3 linked regions of the Homo sapiens genome follow. The protein of the gene in region 2 purifies or fractionates together with the protein of the main gene of each other region. This does not show direct contact. Each region holds a gene or a part of one and is shown on either strand. Other genes may lie near its edges.

What was found.
Region 1: the proteins of CSPG5 (region 2) and TMX1 purify together in Homo sapiens (affinity purification with mass spectrometry; 2 studies listed by BioGRID and IntAct, with this or other methods). This does not show direct contact.
Region 3: the proteins of CSPG5 (region 2) and PTPN2 purify together in Homo sapiens (affinity purification with mass spectrometry; 2 studies listed by BioGRID and IntAct, with this or other methods). This does not show direct contact.

Annotation. Positions count from the first base shown.
Region 1 is NC_000014.9:51,238,211-51,241,958, forward strand, and holds the start of TMX1 (thioredoxin-related transmembrane protein 1 precursor), read left to right. Parts: upstream 1-2,036; 5' UTR 2,037-2,082; coding exon 2,083-2,234; intron 2,235-3,748. UniProt on the Homo sapiens protein: Thiredoxin domain-containing protein that participates in various redox reactions through the reversible oxidation of its active center dithiol to a disulfide and catalyze dithiol-disulfide exchange reactions.
Region 2 is NC_000003.12:47,576,854-47,580,601, forward strand, and holds the start of CSPG5 (chondroitin sulfate proteoglycan 5 isoform 1 precursor), read right to left. Parts: upstream 2,013-3,748; 5' UTR 1,841-2,012; coding exon 1,744-1,840; intron 1,387-1,743; exon of another isoform or gene 1,236-1,386; intron 1,076-1,235; coding exon 1-1,075. UniProt on the Homo sapiens protein: May function as a growth and differentiation factor involved in neuritogenesis. May induce ERBB3 activation.
Region 3 is NC_000018.10:12,828,596-12,832,343, forward strand, and holds part of PTPN2 (tyrosine-protein phosphatase non-receptor type 2), read right to left. Parts: intron 2,447-3,748; coding exon 2,348-2,446; intron 1-2,347. UniProt on the Homo sapiens protein: Non-receptor type tyrosine-specific phosphatase that dephosphorylates receptor protein tyrosine kinases including INSR, EGFR, CSF1R, PDGFR.

The sequences.
Region 1 (3,748 bases), on a different chromosome or scaffold from region 2:
TCAGTCAATTTAGGAAGTTTATTTTGCCAAAATTAAGAATGCGCGCCCATGACATAGCCTGAGGAGGTGCTGAGGACATGTGCCTAAGGTGGGTGGAGCACAGCTTGATTTTATATTATATATTTTAGGGAGACATGAGACATCAATCAACATATGTAAGATGAACATTGTATTGGCCTGGAAAGGTGGGACAACTCAAAGCAAAGGCGGGACAAACTCGAAGCCAGGAAGGGGCTTCCAGGTCATAGGTGGGTAAGAGACAAATGGTGGCATTCTTCTAAGTTTCTGATTAGCCTTCCAAAGGAGGCAATCAGATATGCATTTATCTCAGTGAGAAGAAGGATGAGAGGCAGGTTTGCCCTAAGCAGTTCCCAGCTTGACTTTTCCCTTTAGCTTAATGATTTTGGGGCCCCAAGATTTCTTTTCCTTTCACCAGCTATTACATACCCAAGAGATGTTTAGCAAGGAGTTGAATACATATGCCTGTAGTTCCCAGAAGGATCAGAGTCTGAATGATATACAGTTGAATACATATGCCTGTAGTTCCCAGAAAGATCAGAGTCTGAATGATATACAGTTGAATACATATGCCTGTAGTTCCCAGAAAGATGAGAGCCTGATGATATGAAGAGAAAGGTGGCGGGAGATGGGGGGCGGGGGGCAGTAAAGCATCCTGGAGATGCCGATGTCCGGAAGTAAAGGAGGACCAGCCAAGAAGTTTGAGAAGAATCAGCTACTGTAGGACAGAAAAAAAAGCGAGCTGCCCAGACAGCAAGATAGTAAAGTGTTTCAAGGGTGTGGTAGAATGGGGCTAGGAGTCATGCTAGATGCATTGAGAAGAAACAATTGGGATTTATCTTGCTGGTCGCTGGTGTCCTTGAGAGGGCTATTCAGTGGAGGGGTGGGGAAGGGGACTAATTGGGGTTAATTAAGTTGAAAAGGTGAGGTAAGATAGTGGCAACTATTTCCTTGAGACTTAGTCTCTCTCTATAGCCCAGATTGGAGTGCAGTGGAATGATCTCGGTTCACTGCAACCTCCGCCTCCCGGGTTCAAGCGATTCTCCTGCCTCAGCCTCCTGAGTAGCTGGGACTACAGGCGCCTGCCACCACGCCTGGCTAATTTTTGTATTTTTAGTAGAGACGGGGTTTCACTATGTTGGTCAGGCTGGTCACAAACTCCTGACCTCAAGTGATCCGCCTGCCTTGGCCTCCCTGTTTTGCTAGGATTACAGGCGTGAGCCACCGCACCTGCAACTATTTTCATTTGACTGATGGGGCAGTGCACATTTTGGTTTGCATTTGTATTTACGAATGTTTGAGAGAAAAAACTCAAATATCTTACAAGCCTATGTGTCTGGTTCCATTTTGAAGTACTGACCTAGGATCTCTGTACCTACTGAATTTTTTTTGAGAGATAACATACACCTGAAAGTGCATAAAGTGCACTGTCTTAAAATGTACAGCTTGATCCTTCTTTAAAAAAAATCATATACGTACGCCCATGTAACTACTGTTCATATCTAGATGTTGAACACCTCCAACACATCCAACATAACCATAATGTTCCTCTGCACCTTCCCTGTCTATAATCTCTCAGAAGTAAACCAATATTCCGACTCCTATAAAATCCATTAGCTTTACTACATGTTTCAAAGAAAACAAATGAGAACTCTGAAGGACATTTAATTGGAAAACTGCTTTAGCACATTATAAACTTACCAATTTGCTTGTAAACGCTAACCATTTGGCGCCAAAATCCTGGGAGGGTCTTTTAAACCGTTCTTCCTCAAAGCACCGCCCCACTTTTTACACCACGCCTCCTTTTGCTCTGTTCCTTCCCCCACAATATTGGGACACCCTAGGCGGTAGAAGCAGCCGCTTTTCTGTCATGCGCATTGCGGAGAGTCGTTCTTCCCTCTTTCCCGACTTCACCACTCACTGGGATCAGACCCCTGTCATGCGCATTGAGAGTCCTCTAGACAGGCGCTCCTCGCAGCACCGTAGTGCGCTTGCGCTGAGCAGCCCGCGAGGGCGGAAGTGGGAGCTGCGACCGCGCTCCCTGTGAGGTGGGCAAGCGGCGAAATGGCGCCCTCCGGGAGTCTTGCAGTTCCCCTGGCAGTCCTGGTGCTGTTGCTTTGGGGTGCTCCCTGGACGCACGGGCGGCGGAGCAACGTTCGCGTCATCACGGACGAGAACTGGAGAGAACTGCTGGAAGGAGACTGGATGATAGAATTGTGAGTGCGGGGCGGCCAGGGTCCTACGTCCGTGCCTGGACACACGACTTCACCCCGCACGTTCCTCGTGCGGGTCGCAGGCTCCCCAGGACTGCGCCTCCGAGTTGCGGAGCGAGCGTCCCCGACTTCTGCAGCTCCCCAAACTCTTGGGATCTGCCGCCAGCTTGGTCCCACCCCCTCGTCTCTTACCCGTGAATGTTAAGTTTCTTCTGGGGTGCACCCTCGTTTCGTTTCTTGGGTTGTGGTGCGCCCAAAGGGTTAGTGCCAATGCGAATTCTGACATTTTTCATGACTTTGAGGATGCGACTGGGGCGCGGGGAGGGAGGTGTCCGACTCGTGTCTAAGTAGTTAAAGTGATTCTTCACAGACTTCTACACTTATTTTCACCACATTTTACATAAGAGAATATTGAGCAAAATTTCTCCTCTCGTTTTGTCTGTCCTTAAAAGATAGTCTCTTTATGGTGTTGGAATTTGGCGCTTTTAAGCTTTTTTTAATGGATTGGGTACGTTTCTTTTTTATTGTAAATACTGAGTCAATTCAAGTTGGGTTATTTTTAAGTTTTCGTTTTCTCTTTTTGCCTCCTCTTTTGCTTTCTCTTTTTTTCACTCCTCATCTCATTTTTCCTTTGGGTGTCTTTGTAGTGTAGAGAATACCTTGGGTTGTGACTCCTAGGTCTTTGTAAATGGTATTACATTAAAAGATAATGTATTAATGTATACACTCTCAAGAGCGCCAGGTCATCATTTATTGCTCGAACGAAATCATGTATTTTGTGTGGTGATTTCAATTTAATAATATCTGTTCTGCCGCGGTGGGAAATAAAGTATCTGTCTTTGCTTTAGATGCTAAGTCGTTGTTGATGGTGGTATTATACATATTAGCAGTATTTACTGATAATAGTAAAAGCATAATTATTAACAGTGTACTGGACACCACTAAGCACCTTTACACGAATACCATATTTAATTCCCTACAAATTCTCTATGACAGGTGTTTTTCACGTTTTACAAATGAGTAACAAGATACCTAAATACTTTAGTTAACCTATGCAGATATTGCTGTGCTGGCTTTCTTTGGGTCTTCAGAGTAGGCATACAATAATTGTTGTTAGAACACCTTCTTCTTTAAAAAGGTTCAGCTGGAAGTGGCGTACGCTACCCAGGAGATTGAGGTATGAGGATGACTTGAGCCCAGGGGTTCAAGAGATCCTGGGCAACTAGCAAAATAAATAAGTAAATAAATAAAAATGAAAAGACAACAGGGTTCAGGTGAGTGTTTTCTTGTGTCACGAATACAGCAAGGGTTGTCAAGTTAAGGAGGCCAGTGAAAGTGACATCCCCAAGGGAGAACCCAGAAGGCTAAATCAGTAAGTCCTGTGTTATTTTTTAAAAAAACAAAACTGGCCGGCGCGGTGGCTCACGCCTGTAATCCCAGCACTTTGGGAGGCCGAGGCCGGTGGATCACGAGGTGAGGAGATCGAGACCATCCTGGCTAACACGGTGAAACGCCGT
Region 2 (3,748 bases):
TCCACCAGGTAGCACTGGCCGCCATTGTGACAGTAACTTGGGAAGAGGTCGCACACTGACCGGCAGGAGCCGTTATGCCGCACAAAGCCACTGCGGCACTCAGTGCCATTTTCACTGGAGGCCAAGTCCCTGCCTGGCTCTCCTGGGCGGGGCCTGAGGGCGATGCTGCTGCCGGGGACCGACCCCAGAGTGTGCTGTGGAGGGACAGCATGCCACCGACTGGTGGGCTGGCCTGTCCCGGGCCCCAGACCAGGCTTCCCAGTGGGCACTAGAAGCTCATTTTCATCTTCTAGGTCTCCACCTCCTACTGCATCTTTGTCATCCTCCTCTTCCTCCTCCTCTTCATCCAAGTCATCATAAAAGGATGTGGTGGGGTAGAAATCAGATTCATCGAAGGGGGTGAAATCATCGTATAAGTCAAGCAGGCTCCAGGAAGGGGTCTCTCCCTCAGTATCAGGGTGGTTCTCTGAGGTTCCTGGTGACCCTGGGAAGCTCCCCAGATCTGCGCCACGACCCTCACCATCCAGTCCTTCGAAGTAGTCGATGTCAATGATATCTGATGCCGGTTGGGGCTCCAGGGTGCCCTGAAATGGGTAAGTCAGCTCTGGCCCTTGAGGGTCGGGTGTGCTGCCCCCCAGGTTCAGCCAAACCTCCAAGGGGCTCTCCTTGGGGAGTTCAGAAGCTGGGCTCAGCTTGTCGCCGGGGGTGGGGGAGGGTGGCCCGCTGGCCTCTGTAGCCTCAGGAATGGCAGGGGGCATGATTGACTGCCCGAGGACCTCGTGGGGAGCCTGGAGCGTAGCTGGAAGGGCCTGGGCATCGCCGCTGCCCGCCTCTGCGGTCACTCCTCCCAGGCCTGGGCTGTCAGCTTCCAGCCAGGCGGTGCCGGTCACCGCAGCCGACTCCTGCAGCACCTCTTCTGGCCCGGCCAGCTCGCCACCGGGCGCCGTCCACGACGCCTCATCTTCCCCAGCCGCTGGTGGGCCGGCTTCTTCCCGCGTGTCGTTGGCAGGCGGCTCCCACGCCGGGCTGCCCTTCACCAGCTCTTCGGCCTCAACCGCGCTGCCCGCCTCACGCGCTGCGGGCGGGAGGGCAAGGGGCGGGACGTCAGGGCGGCGCGCTGAGGAGCCCTGGAGCCCCGGCCCGCCCCGGTCAGGCCCGCTCGCCTAGACCTGGTCAACCCAGACCTCGCCACCCTCAGACCCCACCGCCCCAGTGTGACCCCAGCCACCCGGTACCTCTAAGCCCCGTCCCGGAGTCTGCCCCCAAGACGAGGATCACACCCCGCCCAACGCCTCGCGGCTCGGCCCCGCCCGACCTGCCCCGCCGTCTGAAGAGCCAGGCCAGGGCGGCCCCCAGCTCGGCCCACCCATAAGTCTCACCCTCGGGAACCCACCCTGAGCCGCGTCCACTGGCTCCCGCCCTCAGCTCCAGGTCCCGCCCCGAAGTCTCACCCTCAGGCCCCGCCCCGGCCCCGCCCCGGCCCCGCCCCCGGCCCCGCCCCCAGTCCGCACCGCGGCCCGCGCGCTTGGGTCCCGGCTACCCCAACCGGGGTCGGCCCCCACGCGGGTCGGCCTTTCCCGGACCCCCACCACCTCCTGGGACCATTCCGCCGCCCGGCCGCGGCCAGGCGGTGCCCCGCCCCCTTGCCACAGCTCACAGCTCCACCTGTCCCCGCCGCCAGCGGGACCCCTGCCCTGGGTGGGGCACGAGGGCCGCGGGGGTCCCGGGCGCAGTCATACCTACCCGGCACGGCCCCAGAGGCCAGGACCAGCGCGGCCCCCAGAAACAGCAGCAGTGGCGGCGGCCCCCGGCCCGGGCCCCCGCCCCCGGCTCGCCCCATGGCGCGGCGCCCCGACCGCTGTCCGCGGTCCGCCCGGCTGGCTGCGCCCTCGGCTCGCCCGGCCGCCGCGCCTCCCGCCGGTTCTGCGGCCGCCTCAGCCCACGATGGGCAGCGCGAGGAGCCGCATGCCGCCGCCGCCGCCGTCCGCCGCTGTCCCCGGCGCGCCGCGCCTCCCCGCCTCCCGCGCCGCCGCTGCCGCCGCTGCGCTCAGCGCCGCCCTCACCCCGCCCGCCGCGCCGGCCCCGCCGCACGTAGCGGTGACGCCGGCCCCTTGGTCAGCCTGCCAGGGGAACAGACAGACCCCTCGCTGGGGACTAGGAGACACACGGACGGGGAGTGCGGGGCAGGCGGACGGGGAGCGCGAGGCAGGCGCACGGCGCGGCGCGCGGCGTTAGGCGGCAGGTGCACGGGCGGGAGACCTGTGGGATGGGGCCACGGTCCCGCCCCAGGTGAACAGGCGGCACGGGGCCCCGACCCGGAGGAACCCACCCGCCACGCGGCAAGCACGGAGGCGGGGACGTCGCGGGCCCAGTTACCCGCAGGGTCGGGGCGGGGTCCAGAAGAGCCGCAGGGGGCGGAAGCACGAGCCCCCACTGTGGAAACAAGCCAGGCCCGGGGCGCATGGAGCCTCTCGGATTCTGCACCAATCCCGTGTTCCGGGCGGGAAGGCTCTCAGGGAGGTCTCCGGGTCTCCACGAGGGAGGGGCGGGCGTTGGCAGAGCCTGGCAAGGGGGCGAAGCCGACCGCCCAGGCTCTAATCGGATCAGATCTAATCCGTTCGCAGCCAAAGCCACTAGCCTAGATCTCGCACAGCCAGGCCCGCCATAACGCATCCCGGGAGCAAGGGGTAAGACCCTCCCTGGGACTGCGGCTACCTCGCCTTCCTTCTAGTCTCCGGGCAGCCTGGGGAGCGGCCTTTAATCCTGGTCCCTTCTCCGGGATACGTCGTCCCCCAGGTGTCTCAGACCACCAAAACTCAGGTTCCTGGGTAGACCAGGGGGGTCTAGATCCCCAGCCGGGCACACATGGATGCTTGGCTTTAGAGTGATCTGTGGGGCCCATTCACAGCTTCAGGGCTCACAGGGCAACCCAAGACCACGCACCAGGAGGTCTGCTTAGTCGGCAGGAGGAACCGCAACCTAGTTACTTAGTTTATTCCCCCAAACCGACCGTCTACCCCTTAATGTGTTACTCACCCAAATGACAGTTCAGGGTATCAGCCCAAGGAGATAGGACAACTCCAGTATTTAAGAGACGGTCCCATTGCTGTCTTAGAAGACCAAATAAGTGACCAAGATGGAGATTCTATCTCCTAATCTTTCTGATACATATCTCCAGATGGAGTTGCCTTGGTTCAAAACCTGTTTCTCAGCAGAACTATGGCTGCAGCCTATTTGCCTAGCCTAGCGTCTCCACCTCTCCTGCCTGGTAAACTCCTCATGCCAGAAAAACTCAGTTCTTATCACCTTTCCCTCTATGAAGGCTTCTCAGCAGTTACACTTAATGCCCATCATCTCATCTTATCTACAGTTATTCCTCACTGGACTGCAAGGCACTTGAGTGCACAGGGCTGGTAACAGAGGGAGGCTCCATATCAGACAGGCATAAATGAACGAATGGCAACCACCCACACCCATCCCAGAACTGTGGTCTGGAGAGCCTTGAAAAAAGGGGTAAGGCTCTTTCTTTCATAGTTTCATGCTGCCTCCGGGGACCAAGTAAAATATGTTTGAAACAATAGCCTTCTCTAAACAGGGGACCATGTAGGGCTTTGCACTCACCTCAGCCACAGAGGCAGCAACGCACCCTTAACTGCCTCCAACCCATCTCTGCTTCCCTTGTGTGCAGCTTAACTCCTGTCACCTTTTACTGTATGTAGACTCTCTGTGTTCCTTTGCTTGTTTCCTC
Region 3 (3,748 bases), on a different chromosome or scaffold from region 2:
AGCAGATGTAAGATGGAAGGGGCTAAGCAACACTTATAGTTCCAAATTTGAACTGGGAATATCATTATGAACTCTTGAAGTATGTTATCTTAACATATGCATATTGTTCCTTAGCTTTTGTCCACTGAAAAGCCCTAAAAACAATGACCAGTCCAGTTGCAATATATATCCTTATTTTTGCTGTGATCTTGAAATACTGCTGCCCATTAAAAGAAACCAAAACTCCTTAGAGAAATGGCTGGTTCCAGGTCTGGGCAGCAAGAGTTTGAGATGAGCCTGAGATGCAGTCATTACAGACAGCAAAAAAAATTTTTTTTTTTTGAGACAGGGTCTCGCTCTGTCCCCAGGCTGGAGTGCAGTGGCACGACCATAGCTAACTGTAGCCTTGACTTCCTGGCCTCAAGTGATCCTCCTGCCTCAGTACCCCAGGTAGCTGGGACTACAGGCATGCGCCACCACACCCAGCTAATTTTTGTATTTTTTGTAGAGACAGAGTTTCACCATGTTGCCCAGGCTGGTCTCAAACTCCTGGGCTCAAGCGATCCACCCAACTCAGCTCCCCAAAGTGCTGAGATTACAGGTGTGAGCCACTGCACCCAGCCAAGGAAACTATTAAAGGTTTGTTAAAAAGGACTCAGAGCTGGGTGAGGTGGCTCACGCCTGTAATCCCAGCACTTTGGGAGGCCGAGGTGGGCGTATCACTTGAGGTCAGGAACTTGAGACCAGCCTGGCCAACATGGTAAAACCATCTCTACAAAAACTAGCTGGGCATGGTGGTGGGTGCTTGTAATCCCAGTTGCTCGGGAGGCTGAGACGGGAGAATCTCTTGAACCCGGGAAGTGGAGGCTGCAGTGAGCTGAAATCATGCCACTGCACTCCAGCCTGGGCAACAGGCGAGACTCTGTCTCCAAAAAAAAAAAAAAAAAAAGAGGACTCAGGACCCAACCTAAAGACATTGCTGCTAGCCAATGACAGGGTAATTTGATCAAAAATAAGGAAAATAACTGCAAAGGAGTAAAATTAATCCAGTATGTCCAAACCCATAATAATTCAACCTCTCCTGCCACTCTCCACCAGAAAAACTCCTAATTGGTCATCTGTTGAGAACAGATGACCTCAATAGGGAATCAACTTTTTTTTGGAAAACTGCTTTTAAGAGAAGTAATGACAGAATTGGATTATCATCATTTGTAACCCATAATGAATTAAGAAGCTGAACACTGACCAATAATGGCTATTAATGAAATAAAAAGAACAATAATCAGACATTATGGGTCTCTTGATGAATAACACATTACCCACCACCTCTGAAGTAATCTTCCCCAAAATAATTAAACCTGACTCTTGTTAACCATCTAGGTTCAACCACCATAAACATGATTTCTAAATTCTGGTGGCAGTGTTATCTTATTAATACAGTAATTATACTCCAAAATGAGAGAAATAAAATTTGCAAATCATGTAGTCTACAATGGTGCTCAAACTGACAATGTCATAATCCTTGATTTTTTTTTTTTTCTTTTTTGAGATGGAGTCTCACTCTACCGCCCAGGCTGCAGTGCAGTGGGTTTTGAGATGGAGTCTCATTCTATCATCCAGGTTGAGGTGCAGTGGCACAATCTCGGCTCACTGCAACCTCCACCTCCTAGGTTCAAGCGGTTCTCCTGCCTCAGCCTCCCAAGTAGCTAGCATTACACCTGGCTAATTTTGTATTTTTAGTAGAGACGGGGTTTCACCATGTTGGCCAGGCTGGTCTCAAACTCCTGACCTCAAGTGATCTGCCTGCCTCGGCCTCCCAAAGTGCTGGGATTACAGGTTTGAGGCACCGTGCCTGGCCTAATCCTTAATTTTTAAATGATATTGAAGATCAGGAAAAACCCCTGTAAATGACTATGCTGATACTGCTGGAAATTCTGGCATGTCATTGCCACATCTAATTAGAAGTGGATTAGGAAATTTTCATCATCATTAAAAACCAGCAATTATGAAATGTAGAATAAAGTAAGAAATCTGAAGTAGAACAGTACAAGATCTTAAAGCTGGAAGAGGACTTATTGACAATAGGTCAATAAGGATTCCTAGGGATTCCAAAGATCTATATGTCACTGCTAGTCCATATTTATTCCATTGTATTTCTATCTTGGAGATGAAAGGTCTGCAATTGTTATAAAAATACTTAAGAAAGGAAAAGGATACATGAGTTTTTCCGGACAGAAACACTTTGACCGCTAGCCTTTAGCAATTAAAGGCCAAAACTAAGGAATGAATATTGGCCCCAAAATGAAAATCTTTATATGCTAATGATCACATACAGTATACTAAGTTGTAAATATTAAATATTACTCACCGATTCTTTCTCCACAATGCGGTTCAGCATGACAACTGCTTTGGTCTTCTGCTGCCAAACCATAAGCCAGAAATGGCAGCATGTGTTAGGAAGTGGACCCTGTGAAGAGAGAGGAGAGAGAGCAGATGAGGGAAGCAGACAGAAAGAGCAAGGCTCCAGGAAGGCCTTGTTAAGTCTGCTCCTGGGATGTTACAAGACAGACAGCGGACGGGCTTATAAGAAGTAAACCAAGACTTCCAATCTACCTGATTTCAAAAACAGGTCTGTGTTAGTTAGGATTTTTGGTTGTAAATGATCAAAACTGACTTTTATTTTCTCAGGCAAAAAAGGAATTGTGTAAGATATCAAGTGGCTTTCAGAGTTGAGGACTAGAGAGACAAACTTGGGTAGGAACCAAGGGTTAAGACACAAGCAAGGTCCTGCCCCAAAGAAAGTCAACCTGGGATGCTGCTCTTGATACCGTCACTACTATCTCCTTGCTTTTGCTGGCACTGCCATATGAAGGTGGCTATAGTATTCATGTACAATCTATAGGCAAATCAGAGACAAAATCACGAGTAGGAGTATCTGACTGATCATGTTCTAGCTGCAAAGAAGGTAGACCAAGGAAATTTCTGTCCTCTTCATCTTCTACAGCCAAGAGGATGTGCCTCCCACACATCATAGAAAATCCATGAGAAAAAAGTCTGTACCATCACTGGCCAGCCAACCAACTCAAGTCAACTACAAAAAGATTTCTAGAAAAAGTAGGAATCATTAAAGTACCTGAACCACAATGAAACTGTTAATCTACAAATGCACAGTATGTACGGCCTCAATGGAAGAGTATTGGGCAGAGTTAAAAAGGGGCAACAGTCCATGTTACAACAATGCCATGGGGATAAAAGCAAAATATTTCATGTATTTCCAATTGCTTTCACATTTTAATGATAGCATAGGGCAAAAGGAAGATCTAATAAGAGATGAAAAGCCTATGTACAAATTTTAACGAGTTTTAAATGAGAAGGTTAAAATGAGATGTAGTTTTGCTACACCTAAAATAACTATGAACATGCATTCAACTCACATGGAATGTAGCAGAGTGGTATGAGTTAGGGGCAGAGTCAGGAGTGGGGGCTAGGGCTGCCCAGAGCTTCAGACCCACATACAACAAGGGGGTTAAAGTGGTTCTAGACTAAAAGCATTTTTTATTTTTTGAGATGGTGTCTCTGTCACCCGGGCTAGAGTGCAGTGTCACGATCTCAGCTCACTGCAACCTCCACTTCCCAGGTTCAAGAGATTCTCCTGCCTAAGCCTCCCACGGAGCTGGAATTATAGGCACCCGCCACCACACCTGGCTAAATTTTGGATTTTTAGTAGAGACAGGGTTTCACCATGTTGGCCAGGTTGGTCTCGAACTCC